Homo sapiens: one gene and its partners. The protein of the gene in region 2 interacts with the protein of the main gene of each other region in a biochemical or structural test. Each region holds a gene or a part of one and is shown on either strand. Other genes may lie near its edges.

Region 1 (3,500 bases), on a different chromosome or scaffold from region 2:
CCTGGTCCCTGTGCCTGCTCTGCAGTCACTCCTTGTTCTGCATATGCGTACAGATCCCTCCAGGCCAAGCCTCTCATGGACCCTTCCTCCCAAGCCTGCAGTCATCTTGTGCTCTGCCCTCCCCATCATCTCCATACTCATCCTCTTGCCCTGCTCTTTCTGGAGACTCTCATCCCACTTCCCTCCTGGGCCTGCCCAAGTGGTCTTTTCACCCTGTCATCCAGCCACAGTGTCTACTGAAGCCCGCCGCTCCTGGAATTGCCAGGCAGCTCTTGCGTGCTCTCTTGCTGTTCATGTGTTGCTCTGTTGTGACTCTAGTTAAAGTGTGTGCTTTTTAATGGCAGGAACTCTGTGTTCTATTCTTTATTATGTTTCTGAGATTCCAGCACAGTGACTTATACCAGGGAGACGCCAGGAAGATCTTGCTGGGTTTTAGACTGTGTCTCCCTGCAAGGACTTTATTCATTTGGTGCAAGGGGAGGTTTACTGCATGTATCAACTAGGATATTGGTTTGACTGCTTTAACTGAAACCAAATAACAGTGGCTTAAGCATAATGGGCAGTTTATTTCTCTGTCATGTACAAGTCTGAGCTGTGGTTGATGTGGGAGAGGCATTGCGTTCTGAGGATCATCCAGGACCCAGGTCCCTTCCATCTTGTGCCTCTGCCATTTCTTAAGGGTTATCCTCAACTGCATGGCCAGAGCTGGCTCACAGCACTCACCTGTTCTAGCCGTGCAGATTGGGGAGGCCTCACCTGTCACTGGGCAGGTCTGGGTTACACTGACCACACCTTCCTGGGGAGTGGGAGCTTTACCTGCCAAACCCCAGAGGCTGCCTTGCCAGAGAGCAGAGGAGAATGGAGATGGGGCAGGGGAAGCAGGCGTCGACCCACGAGGAAAAATCAGAGCAGAAGGAAGCTCTGGGATGAGTGGTTGAGACCAGCTGCCTCTGGTGTTCACAGAGGGCATGGGGGGTGCTCATGCTGGACTCCAGGGGTGACGATGCCCGGTTGTGCCTGGGACACGAGATTTTCAGTGCTGAAGCTGGGGGAGTCCCAGGCAAACCAGAGTGGGCGAGGTCAGGGAGCGGGGTTCCCCAGCCCCACTCAGGTCCTCCACTCCAAGCTGGGTCCGTGACGCTGCTGCTCTCTCTCCCTCAGATTCGGTGAGCCTGGCCTATCAGCGGGTCCAGAAGGTGGACTGCACCGCTCTGAGGCCTGTCCTGATTCTGGGGCCTTTGCTGGACGTGGTGAAGGAGATGCTGGTGAATGAGGCTCCTGGCAAGTTCTGCAGATGTCCCCTTGGTAAGGGGCACGGGGCACCCTCTGTGCCTACTGGGCTCTTTGTCTCTATGTCCCTGTCCACCTGCCTGCCCAGCTGTGCACAGTGGGTGGCAGTACCGGGGGGCAGATTTCACAGTGTTCCAGAAGCCTGCTGACATGGGTCAGATTCATGCATGGCAGGACTGGGTTACTGACAGCTGCTGAGCAGTGTTCTTCCCCTGCTCCCTCTGCTGGGGCTCAGCAGGGCCTGGGGCTCCCTGATTCCTGTGTCTGTGCATTGCAGAGGTGATGAAGGCCTCCCAGCAGGCCATTGAGCGGGGTGTCAAAGATTGCCTGTTTGTCGACTATAAGCGGAGAAGCGGCCATTTCGATGTGACCACTGTGGCGTCAATAAAGGAGATCACAGAAAAGGTACCCAGGGCTTCAGTCTGAGGATTAGGCATCCAGTATTAGACCTCCTGTGCACAGGTCTAGGCCCCTGGTCCGTGATCCTCTGCCCCAGCGGCTCAGACCTTCAGTGAGCCCACCGTGTTGTGTTAGTCTGAGTTCACCTGTGCCTGGGCTTGCCCTCATGGCTGCTGTGTGTTTCTGCAAGCACATCCCTTGGTGGGGATGGAGGAGTTCCCCTGTGTATGTGCCGCCCCATCTTCCTCTCTGGCAGGTGCGGGGGGTCTCATCTCTGATGAGAGTATTGAGCTCTGCGGAAAGGCCTCTCGCAGGGCATTCCGGAACGGGGTCCCCAAATGCATGTGCCGAACAATTTCACATGCACCTTCTGGGGACAGGAACGTGCCTTCCCTCAGGGTCCCTGCCCCTAAAAGGGCTATGACTCTCGGTGCCTTCGAACATCCTAGGCAGCACGAGGGCGGGGACGTCTGTGGGGAGTGCTGGTGGGGCAAACACTCGGAGTCCAAGGACACAGCCGCTCCTTGGGCTCCATTTCTCCAGGCTGCTCAGCTCGCTCGCTGGGCTTTGCTTCCCTTCTCTGTTAGATGAAGGTGTTGGCTTCTCACTGCTGAAAGTGGGCAAACTCTACTTGGGGGAATGCCCCAGTGGAGCATCTGGGGGTCGGGAGTGCACGGGCCTGCACTCCACCTGGATGCCTGGGACGACAGACATGACAGACATATTTCAGTCTCAGCCACACAAAGGCTCACCAGACTCTGGCTCTTCATTCGCTCAGTCTGGCAAAAATAAGGCTTCAGAGGCCAGGGTGGGGCAGGGCTTTCAGAAGGTCCCTGTATCTGGGCAAAGGCGGGAAAGGAAGTTTGGAGTTGGGCTGGCCAGCACCCCTAGCCCCCTAAGCCCTGGCTCCCAGCCTTGGCCTTCCTCACAGCAAGTGGGGTTTGTTGGGAGTTTCGTGGGTATGGTTTCCCCACGGTGTACTGTGTGGCTTTACTGCCTTGTTTGTGGGTAGAGCCCTGTGAGGTGAGGTGGGTCCTGCTGGTGGCAGGACAGGGGGCTGGCTGCCCCTCACTGCCCGCCAGGGCTCACTCTGCACCCCCCACCCCAGAACCGACACTGCCTCCTGGACATTGCTCCGCACGCTATTGAGCGGCTCCACCACATGCACATCTACCCCATTGTCATCTTCATCCACTACAAGAGCGCCAAGCACATCAAGTAGGTAACTGGCCCCCTGGGCTCCGCTGGGGCCTTGTCACAGGTGGGGCTGGGAGCCCAAGTAGGGAGCAGGGTGTGTTGGGGTGGGGGGTTGAGGAATGAGAGATGGGCCTATGGGTCTTGAAATAGGCAGTACGTGTAGAAAATGACCCTTCCCTGTCGGCCCTGTCCCCTACTCAGAGGTGGTGTCAGCCAAGCGCAGCCCCTTCCTCGCGCCCCTCCGCCATTTGGGTGCTGCCACTGTTTTTTGGGCATGGCCAGCTTGGTCTGCACAGCTCCCCTCTCCTGCCCCAGCCCCCTTTCCTCGCTACGTGCTGCTTAGGAGCAGGGGAGCCAGTGGCCTGGGCACAGTCCCACTCAGCCCCGAGCTGGCTCATGACTCAGGAGCCGTTGCCTTCGCTGAGCTTCGGCTCCTGTGCTGGTTGGGCCAAGGGCTCACCAAGGCCCTGCTCCATTTTGCCTTTCTGTGCTGCTGAGCTTCTGGGACCTGCGCTAGGGGCTGCTGGTGCATCTGTTCCAAGTGTGTGTGCTGGGGGGCCCTCCTTCCCCCATCTGCCCAGAGCTCCCCCGACAGCCTACAGGCTGTTGCTGTG
Region 2 (3,301 bases):
TAGACTGTTGATCTGACAAGTCTATAATGACTTAAGTGATGCCATGATAAAACCAAAATATTGGGGAAAATATTTGGCAAATTATTCTAAGAATATGCCAATTTGGATAAAGTGGTCATTTGGAGAACTGGTTTTTAGGAAAGTGGCCTACTTACTCCACTGAGGCTGCTAGGGGAAATAGTCCCAGCCCCTCACAGGTATGGTGCCCATTCCAGCCATGAAGGCTGACACAAGAGGAGGTTGCCAGGAGCTCACCCATGAAGCTACCAGAAGAAGGCAGAAAACCCACTGTATGGCTATCCCATGAAGCTAGAGGAAGGGCAAGCTGGTGGGGGGACAGCCTCTGAGAGGCAGCATGGACAGACTCTGTCCTGCCAAAGTCCTCACACAGCCCACACAGGTGATTTGAGGTACACCCCAAGTGCCTGGCAGCTAAACACATTGCCATTAGTGCCACATCATTTAGCTTAAGGCTCTACTAAGTCAGTAATTACTTTAGTGGCATTATGAGTAAGTACAGATGAACTGGCAGTCGCTTCAGGAAAGGGACACATGGTGAGTCCTGATGATGGGCAGGGAGGGAAGGAAGGTGGGGTGTCGGGCCCTGCAGTGGGGTGTGGGGGAGCTGCAGAACTTGGGGCACTAGTAGGGTACACCATATCAGGCCAGGAGGAAAAAGGAGAAATCAAAGTTGGGGAGTGGTAGGGAAGGAAAAGGGTCTGTAGTGAATGGAACGTAACTCTTCCCTATTGGTGATTTTCCTTTGAACAAATGTTGGCCAAATTATTTTCTGACCCAGTACCCTCCTATATCAAAGAAGTGATGGGATGGTGGGAAATAAGCAGCTTTCCTATTGTTAAAAAAAAAAAAAATAAAGACTGGAGACCCCTCTAAGCCAGGGGTTTAATGGAGAGCCCTGGAAATGAAGTCTTTCTGTGGGCACCTGTCCCCTCAAGGCTGCACCTGTCCTTGGCAGGGATCTGGAGAGGTGGTCAGGGAGGTTGCTTGGAGAGAGGAGCCCTGAGCTTGTGCCTTATGTGTGAGTTAATGTGGCTTGAGTGTCCCTGGTGTCCCCAAGCCTGGCAAACTGCTGGGTTCAATGAACAACTTTCCCTTATAGTCCCTCAGCCCTGCCTGTCGGCCTGGCTGGGAACCTGGTGGCTGAGGCGCTGGGATCAGGGGGATCCTAGAGTCGTTGGGACCAGAGCAAGGGGGAATAGTGGCTAGAGGCCAGGCCAGGACATTGTGATTTATCCACAGGCCTTCTGACAGTGGCCCGCCCGCTGAGCGCTCCCCCTGCCGCGGCCGGGTCTGCATCTCTGGTAAGAAGCACAGCTACCCCAGCTGCTGGTACCCCTTGCCCAAGCACACGGCCTCCTGCCCCATCTCAACATCTATTCTTACCCCTCTGCCCCTTAGACCTCCGGATTCCACTCATGTGGAAGGACACAGAATATTTCAAGAACAAAGGTGGTGAGTTCCACACACCCTGGGACAAATTCAGGGGAATGACCCTGAAGTAGGAGGCTCTCGTGGGACGTGTTTTTTGTTTTGCCCTTTGTCCCCAGACTTGCACCGCTGGGCTGTGTTCCTGCTGCTGCAGCTGGGGGAACACATCCAGGACACAGAGATGATCCTAGTGGACAGGACCCTCACAGACATCTCCTTTCAGAGCAATGTGCTCTTGTGAGTACCTCACACTGTGGCTACCTCCTTCCTCCACTCTGCTCCAGTTCTGGATGAGCGAGTTCCAGGGGAGGAAGCTGGGATGGGGGCAGGGTGGAGAGGAGGGGCACCTGGCCTTCTCTGTGGAGCTGTCCTGCACTTGCCTCACCCACATCCCCTACCCTCTGCCTCCCTGGACTTTCCTGTGACCACCCTCCTTTCTTCCTCCCACCAGCGCTGAGGCGGGGCCAGACTTTGAACTGCGGTTAGAGCTGTATGGGGCCTGTGTGGAAGAAGAGGGGGCCCTGACTGGCGGCCCCAAGAGGCTTGCCACCAAACTCAGCAGCTCCCTGGGCCGCTCCTCAGGGAGGCGTGTCCGGGCATCGCTGGACAGTGCTGGGGGTTCAGGGAGCAGTCCCATCTTGCTCCCCACCCCAGTTGTTGGGTAAGGCCTTGCACACCGACACCACCCTCAGCTGCCTGTATTCTGCCCACAGGTGACCTTTGAACTGTGTTGAGTGTGCAGAACCCATTTTGCATTGCTGCCAGGATGTGCAGACAGATATGAATGAGCAGTGGCCACGTAGCTGGGAGGCATTCCAGCCCACGCCCCAGAGCTGGGCTGAAGCCAGTCCAGAAGACCAGTGGGAAGGCAGGGAGACTTAGGCCCTGGGGTCTTACCTTTTTAGCAGCAGCAAATACATTTTATTTTTAGAGACAGGGTCTCACTATGTTGCCCAGGCTAGTCTCGAACTCCTGGGCTCAAGTGATCCTCCCGCCTCGGCCTCCCAAAGTGGTAGGATTACAGGCGTGAGCCACAGCACTCAGCCTAGCAAATACATTTTATGTGGATAGAGCAGAGCTTCTTGGTTGGAGCAGAGTACCCTGGGACCTATGGTGGTACCTAAATGCACCTGGAGACACCGCATGGGACCACTGAGACTCTGAGAAGCAGTTTGAGAACCTTTGGGTAGTGAACAGAATACTGATTTTGGACATAGATATGGGTTCAAATTCAAACTCCCCCACTTTCCACCTATAAATTATGGGCAAGTTTCTTAACCTCTCTAAGCCTCAAGCTGCCTCATCTAGTTGAAGAATGCCACCAACCTCACAGGGCTGTCATAGGAATACAGTGGGATAAAACATATAAAGCATACGTCCTGACACTTAGCTGGAGCTCGGTAAATGTTCATTCCTAACCCTCTGGGGAGGCAAGCGAGTTTTCTGTGGGGCAGTCTGAACAATGGGGCAGATCTGCTCAGCCCTTAGAGTTCCTGCTGGCCAACATGCCCCTCCCTTGGCTGATGCTCTCTCCTATCTCCCTCAGTGGTCCTCGTTACCACCTCTTGGCTCACACCACACTCACCCTGGCAGCAGTGCAAGATGGATTCCGCACACATGACCTCACCCTTGCCAGTCATGGTAAGTATGTGTGTGCATGGGGGACATACACATGTGATGGTGAGAAGAGGGGCTGTGGGATGGTCCCCTTCTCATTCCCCTACCTCACCCTGCACTTCCTCCTCCCCCAGAGGAGAACCCTGCCTGGCTGCCCCTTTATGGTAGCGTGTGTTGCCGTCTGGCAGCTCAGCCTCTCTGCATGACTCAGCCCACTGCAAGTGGTACCCTCAGG
Region 3 (2,387 bases), on a different chromosome or scaffold from region 2:
ACTAGCCTGGACTCCAGTCGACTGAGCCCTGAGGTGCAATCCGTGGCAGAGAGCAAGGGGGACGAGGCAGATGACGAGAGAAGCGAACTCATCAGTGAAGGGCGGCCTGTGGAAACCGACAGCGAGAGCGAGTTTCCCGTGTTCCCCACAGCCTTGACTTCAGAGAGGCTTTTCCGAGGAAAACTGCAAGAAGTGACTAAGAGCAGCCGGAGAAATTCTGAAGGAAGTGAATTAAGTTGCACCGAGGGAAGTTTAACATCAAGTTTAGATAGCCGGAGACAGCTCTTCAGTTCCCATAAACTCATCGAATGTGATACTCTTTCCAGGAAAAAATCAGCTAGATTCAAGTCAGATAGTGGAAGTCTAGGAGATGCCAAGAATGAGAAAGAAGCACCTTCGTTAACTAAAGTGTTTGATGTTATGAAAAAAGGAAAGTCAACTGGGAGTTTACTGACACCCACCAGAGGCGAATCCGAAAAACAGGAACCCACATGGAAAACGAAAATAGCAGATCGGTTAAAACTGAGACCCAGAGCCCCTGCGGATGACATGTTTGGAGTAGGGAATCACAAAGTGAATGCCGAGACTGCTAAAAGGAAAAGCATCCGGCGCAGACATACACTAGGAGGGCACAGAGATGCTACCGAAATCAGCGTTTTGAATTTTTGGAAAGTGCATGAGCAGAGCGGGGAGAGAGAATCTGAACTTTCAGCTGTAAACCGGTTAAAACCAAAATGCTCAGCCCAGGACCTTTCCATCTCAGACTGGCTGGCCAGGGAACGCCTACGCACCAGTACCTCTGACCTTAGCAGAGGAGAAATCGGAGATCCCCAGACAGAGAACCCAAGCACACGAGAAATAGCCACGACCGACACACCTTTGTCTCTTCATTGCAACACAGGCAGTTCTTCCAGCACCTTGGCTTCAACAAACAGGCCCCTTCTTTCCATACCACCACAGTCACCTGACCAAATAAACGGAGAAAGCTTCCAGAACGTGAGCAAAAATGCTAGTTCTGCAGCGAATGCCCAACCTCATAAACTGTCTGAAACCCCAGGCAGTAAAGCAGAGTTTCATCCCTGTCTTTAAACTGGGGGTATGTCCACTCTAGCAAGTAAAAAAACTACTGTTACACGTTCCAGTAACTCTGTCAATATTTTCTTGTATCAGAATTGTTATTATGCAGCCTTCATTTGGGCTGGTTTCATCATTTTGCACTGTGAAATAGCTTTACAGTGCATTACTACAGCCAGAAGAACATATATATATATATATATATTTAAAAATATATCGGATAGTTGTATACAAATGAGCAAGGTATTTGTTGCAACTTACTACATAGCATATACCCAAAATCACTGAAGAAAATCGCTGGCATCAGTGTGCAGCAAATTTGTTCTTTTGGTTTCATCACTAACAAAAGTGCCTCATCATAAAAATACAGTTGGTTTTTAGGGTGCCATATTGTTAAAATTAGATAACTTACTTACATTGAATAAACGAATGCGTTTTATTGGTAACAGATATCATTACATTTACCAGTTTTAACACAGGTGGATACAGAACTTCCATTCTTTAGTCATTCCAGGTGGATCTGAGTTTTATATTCAAACTTTTAATACAGTTTTTGAGTTTTGTGTGACTTGAATTTTTAATCTTTCTGTAAAATACGTAACTTAAATGAACATATTAAATGTGTATCTTTTCTTCAGATACCAGATTTGATATAATGTTGTAACATAGGTGTGTAGATAGTGGATCCTGGATGGAACTGGCTTCTTTATCGAGAAGAATATAATTCTGCATGAGGACTTAATGAATCCAAACCTGTGTCATGCCTGTGTGCATACCCAATTAAACACTGGAAATAAAAATTGTTTTGGTGAATTTTGCATGGCTTGAAACTTATTCTGATATATTTTTAGATGTCATCCATTTATAACTACCTTACATGATTAATTGGTCCTGACTTTAAAAAGGTGCCTACTATATTTATACATTCCATCTTCTCCTCTTTCTTGCTGTGGTGGGTAGAGACTCTTTCTTACAGATGCTTACATTAGCCTAACCTCACTTGTTGACTGATAGTGTTTAACTCTTCTAGGTAAAGTAATGTATGTTATGTTAATGTTCTTTTCGTGAGTGAAACGAACATGAGTTTGGAGTCAGTCCAGCTCTACCTAGGTATGTGAACTTGAACACATTATTTAACTTCTCTGAATTTGTTTTCTCATATAAACAGTTAGTTACAGTAACACTACCTATTATAAGGGTGATTAGATTTAAATGAGATACTGTTCCACTTACAGTGCCTGCCACACACTAGTTTCAAAATAGAACAAAGCTATTGTTGGAAGTAATGGTTACAAAAAAATCTCAGACTGTTA
Region 4 (3,500 bases), on a different chromosome or scaffold from region 2:
TAAAAGTACAAAAAAAAAAAAATTAGCCAGGCATGGTGGTGCACACCTGCAGTCCCAGCTACTCGGGAAGCTGAGGCAAGAGAATCCCTTGAACCTGGGAGGTGTAGGTTGCTGTGAGCAGAGATTGCACCACTGCACTCCAGCCTGGCGATAGAGCAAACAAAACAAAACAAAACAAAAACAAACAAAAAAAGAAGACCTCACCCATCCAGTCTTAAGGGTGCCCTGAAGCAATTTCCCAAAACTCAGAGCTTCCCAGGGTGATGACTAAAGAAGCAAAAAAGGCCGCTGCTTGGATGGAAGGACAAAGCCCAGAGCTGACCCCAAGGCGTGGGGAGACCCCTCGGGACTTGGCTCCCCCGGGAAGTGTGAGCCCCCAGGACCTGCTGCCCAGAGGCGGGCACAATAACCGGGTCATACTCACAGTTGCGCCTGCTTCTCTGCTAGTTCTTTGGTTTTCTCCTACAATTACAAAGCGGGAGAAAAAGCAAGTGAGCAAAACAGGCTAACACAGGGACGCGTTCAAATACACGATACCATCGACAGGAAAACAAGCCATGCTGCCCCAGGCATCCTGTGTGACGCTGACTATTTATTCAAGCTGTGCTGGAAAGGACATTTTCCATGTGACTTCAACATCTTCCCATTCCATTACCGACTATGACCTACAAGTTTGCTACAATAGAGTATCTCACAACTCTCTAGCTTACATAACAACCGGCTATTTAAAAAATAGTAGAGGCTGGGCAAGGTGGCTCACACCTGGAATCCCAGCACTTTGGGAGGCTGAGGCAGGCAGATCACTTAAGGTCAGGAATTCGAGACCAGCCTGGACAACATGGTGAAACCCCATCTCTACTAAAAATACAAAAATTAGCCGGGTGTGGTGGCGCATGCCTATAATCCCAGCTATTTGGGAGGCTGAGGCAGGAGAATCCCTTGAACCTGGGAGGCAGAGGTTGCAGTGAGACGAGATCACGCCACCGCACTACAGCCTGGGTGACAGAGCGAGACTCCGTCTCAGCAAAAAAAAAAAAAAAAAAAAAAGAATTATTCTTGCCTTAGTAGTAAGTTATTATCCGGCTGAATGTAACCGTGATGGCTGAGTGCGCGTAGACTAAGCGTGTATATTTGGTAAGGAATGAGGACGGGGCAGCGGCGACACAGTTGCACATTCTCAGGAAACAAACGCGCAAATGATATTCGCATGGGATCTGGACAGCACCCAGCGGAGGCTTCGGATTCCCACAGTGGGTGCAGGGGGAAGAGGTGGACTCAGGCTCGGTCTCATGTCTATCAGCTCAATCTCTGGACCAGGCAATTCACCTCTGGGAGCCTCTGTTTCAGAGCCTGTAGCATAGGGGCAGGGTGAGCCCTGGTGTGCTGCAGGGAGTGGGCCAGCCACACAGCGAGCCCCAGGTGGCTGGGACACAGGCTGGGACCCGGGTCCCTCAGCAAGTGACTTACGGCCCCCTGGCTTCAGTTTCCCTGGCTGTGACATGGGGTGTGGCATCTACATCGTCAGGGTGGTTGTGATAAAGAAATTAAACAGCGTTTGGTTTGCAAGTAAGTGCCTGGCGCAGAGGAGACTCGGGAAATGACAATGATCGTGCGAAAACCCATGACTTCTGGCCAGCAGGTAACTCTCGGTCACAGTGGCCACGATGTGGACACACACTACAGGGACATCACCTGGCCCTGTGTCCATGACTGCACGGAGGGGACACGGGCACGCTGCAGTGGCACTCCCATCAAATCCCAAGCCGGGAACCCGAGGGGAAGAGGCACGGACACCCAGATTACAACACCCACGGTGCACAGAGACGGCTCCCACTGACATCTGGACAGGGAAGCCTGAGCTGGCTTTTACTTTTTAAAAGTCTCAGACATTTAAAATGTGGATTTCGATATGAGAAAGTGATAAGGTTTCTACACAGTCAAGTGGTTCCCCCTTCCCCTGTCTGCCGGGGATAAGCGGGGCCCAGACTAGCGAGGATCTGAGGGTCTCTGAACGAACTTGAACAACTACGAGTTGTCCTTCGGGTCCCTGGGAGCCAAGTCACTGTGGGGTGGGGCCCAGCGGGGGGCCATGACTGTGTGATGCCTGTTCCAGCACTCATGGGCCCAGGGCGGTCCTGCTCACTGGCGGCCACACTGGATTCCTGGGGACATTGGCAATGCCTGCAGCCATGGGTGTATTGCGTGTGTGTGTGTGGCGGGGCGGCAGAGGGTGACCGGCATCTAGGGGTGGAGGCCGGGGATGCTGCTGAATCCTCTGCAATGCACAGGCCAGCCTCACAGCAAGGAGCTCTCCTGCCACAGTGTCCACAGGGCCGGGGATGAGAGAGGCTGGCCTGGAGGAAAGTTCGTCAACGCACAAAAGGTGACGGGCCCTGCACCTCCAAACTCGGATCAGGGATGGCTCCAGCGGGTATGTGCTCAACCGGCCCCTGGCAGCAAGCACAGGGCGCCGGCACACACAGGGGCTTCTGGGGCTCTTGGGCAGGGGCCTGTGAGAGCTATCAATGTCACCTCGGCCTCGTGGTGCCCAGGCTCAGGGGCAGCTCACTCCTGGCACGTGACAGTGCTGGGCCCAGCTGGACCCCAGGGAGGGTACAAGCCCAGAGCTCAGGAGGTGACCTAGGACCCCACGCAAACCCCACCCTCAGGGGCAAAGGGCTGCAGCTGACACCTTGGGTTCTGGGGCTGCTTCTGGTGGCCTGTGGGGCTGGGGGGCAGCGACAGGCAGGGAAAGGCCGCCCTGCGCTCAGCAGCACAGCACCGTGGGGGTCAGATAGAGGCGCTCCCGCCTCCCAGCCGGGGCCAGCTCCGGGCCCCCTCTTCCCCCAGACCGGCACAGGACCCAGACCGCCCACCCCAGCACACTGACCCAGACAGTCTCGCGGATCAGCCTGGCTATCTTGAGCAGGAGCTGCCCGAATGTGCCCGGCTGGAAGTGGGTGGCCGAGTGCTGGATGCAGAGGCACAGGAGGAAGGCGGGGGTCAGCTTGTGGTCGTCGCCCCCCGGCTCGATCAACGTCATGATCCTCTGCAGCAGCGTGTCCTCCAGGTGGGGCTCAAACTCCAGGAGCAGCTGCTGGCGCCGGGGCAGGGCGGCCTGAGTAGGGGAGGCGGCTCCCCGGGCCCCGAGCGCGGCCCCGCACAGCCGGCAGCTCTGCGGCACAGCCCGGAGGCGCGCCAAGGCCCGGGCGGGCAGGGGCTGGGCCTGCGCGGGGTCCTTGAATAGCAGCAGGTAGTAGAGCCCCAGGGAGAGCAGGTCCCCGTGGTGCAGCACCACGGTCCTGTGCCCCACCTCGGAGAAGTTGACGGAGATGTGCGCCCCGGGGATGGGCTCCAGGACCAGCCTCCCCGCGGCCTGGCCGCTGTCCGGGAGCGGTTGCCGGCGGATGGTGCAGTGTAGAGGCAGGATGTCGGGGGCTGAGAGGCTGATGCTGGGCTTGCTGGAGGGGGTCCGCTGGCCCACCGTGTGCCGGTCCCGG

What was found. The genes of interacting proteins can lie anywhere in the genome.
Region 1: the proteins of RTKN (region 2) and DLG5 interact in a test that uses a peptide from one of them, tested with the Homo sapiens proteins (one large-scale study listed by IntAct).
Region 3: the proteins of RTKN (region 2) and ARHGAP21 interact in a test that uses a peptide from one of them, tested with the Homo sapiens proteins (one large-scale study listed by IntAct).
Region 4: the proteins of RTKN (region 2) and RADIL interact in a test that uses a peptide from one of them, tested with the Homo sapiens proteins (one large-scale study listed by IntAct).

Annotation. Positions count from the first base shown.
Region 1 is NC_000010.11:77,794,256-77,797,755, reverse strand, and holds part of DLG5 (disks large homolog 5), read left to right. Parts: intron 1-1,161; coding exon 1,162-1,305; intron 1,306-1,567; coding exon 1,568-1,695; intron 1,696-2,797; coding exon 2,798-2,907; intron 2,908-3,500. UniProt on the Homo sapiens protein: Acts as a regulator of the Hippo signaling pathway.
Region 2 is NC_000002.12:74,428,637-74,431,937, reverse strand, and holds part of RTKN (rhotekin), read left to right. Parts: intron 1-1,260; coding exon 1,261-1,322; intron 1,323-1,419; coding exon 1,420-1,473; intron 1,474-1,568; coding exon 1,569-1,686; intron 1,687-1,900; coding exon 1,901-2,110; intron 2,111-2,995; coding exon 2,996-3,090; intron 3,091-3,200; coding exon 3,201-3,301. UniProt on the Homo sapiens protein: Mediates Rho signaling to activate NF-kappa-B and may confer increased resistance to apoptosis to cells in gastric tumorigenesis. May play a novel role in the organization of septin structures.
Region 3 is NC_000010.11:24,583,114-24,585,500, reverse strand, and holds the end of ARHGAP21 (rho GTPase-activating protein 21), read left to right. Parts: coding exon 1-1,089; 3' UTR 1,090-1,887; downstream 1,888-2,387. UniProt on the Homo sapiens protein: Functions as a GTPase-activating protein (GAP) for RHOA and CDC42. Downstream partner of ARF1 which may control Golgi apparatus structure and function. Also required for CTNNA1 recruitment to adherens junctions.
Region 4 is NC_000007.14:4,831,717-4,835,216, forward strand, and holds part of RADIL (ras-associating and dilute domain-containing protein), read right to left. Parts: coding exon 2,891-3,500; intron 463-2,890; coding exon 425-462; intron 1-424. UniProt on the Homo sapiens protein: Downstream effector of Rap required for cell adhesion and migration of neural crest precursors during development.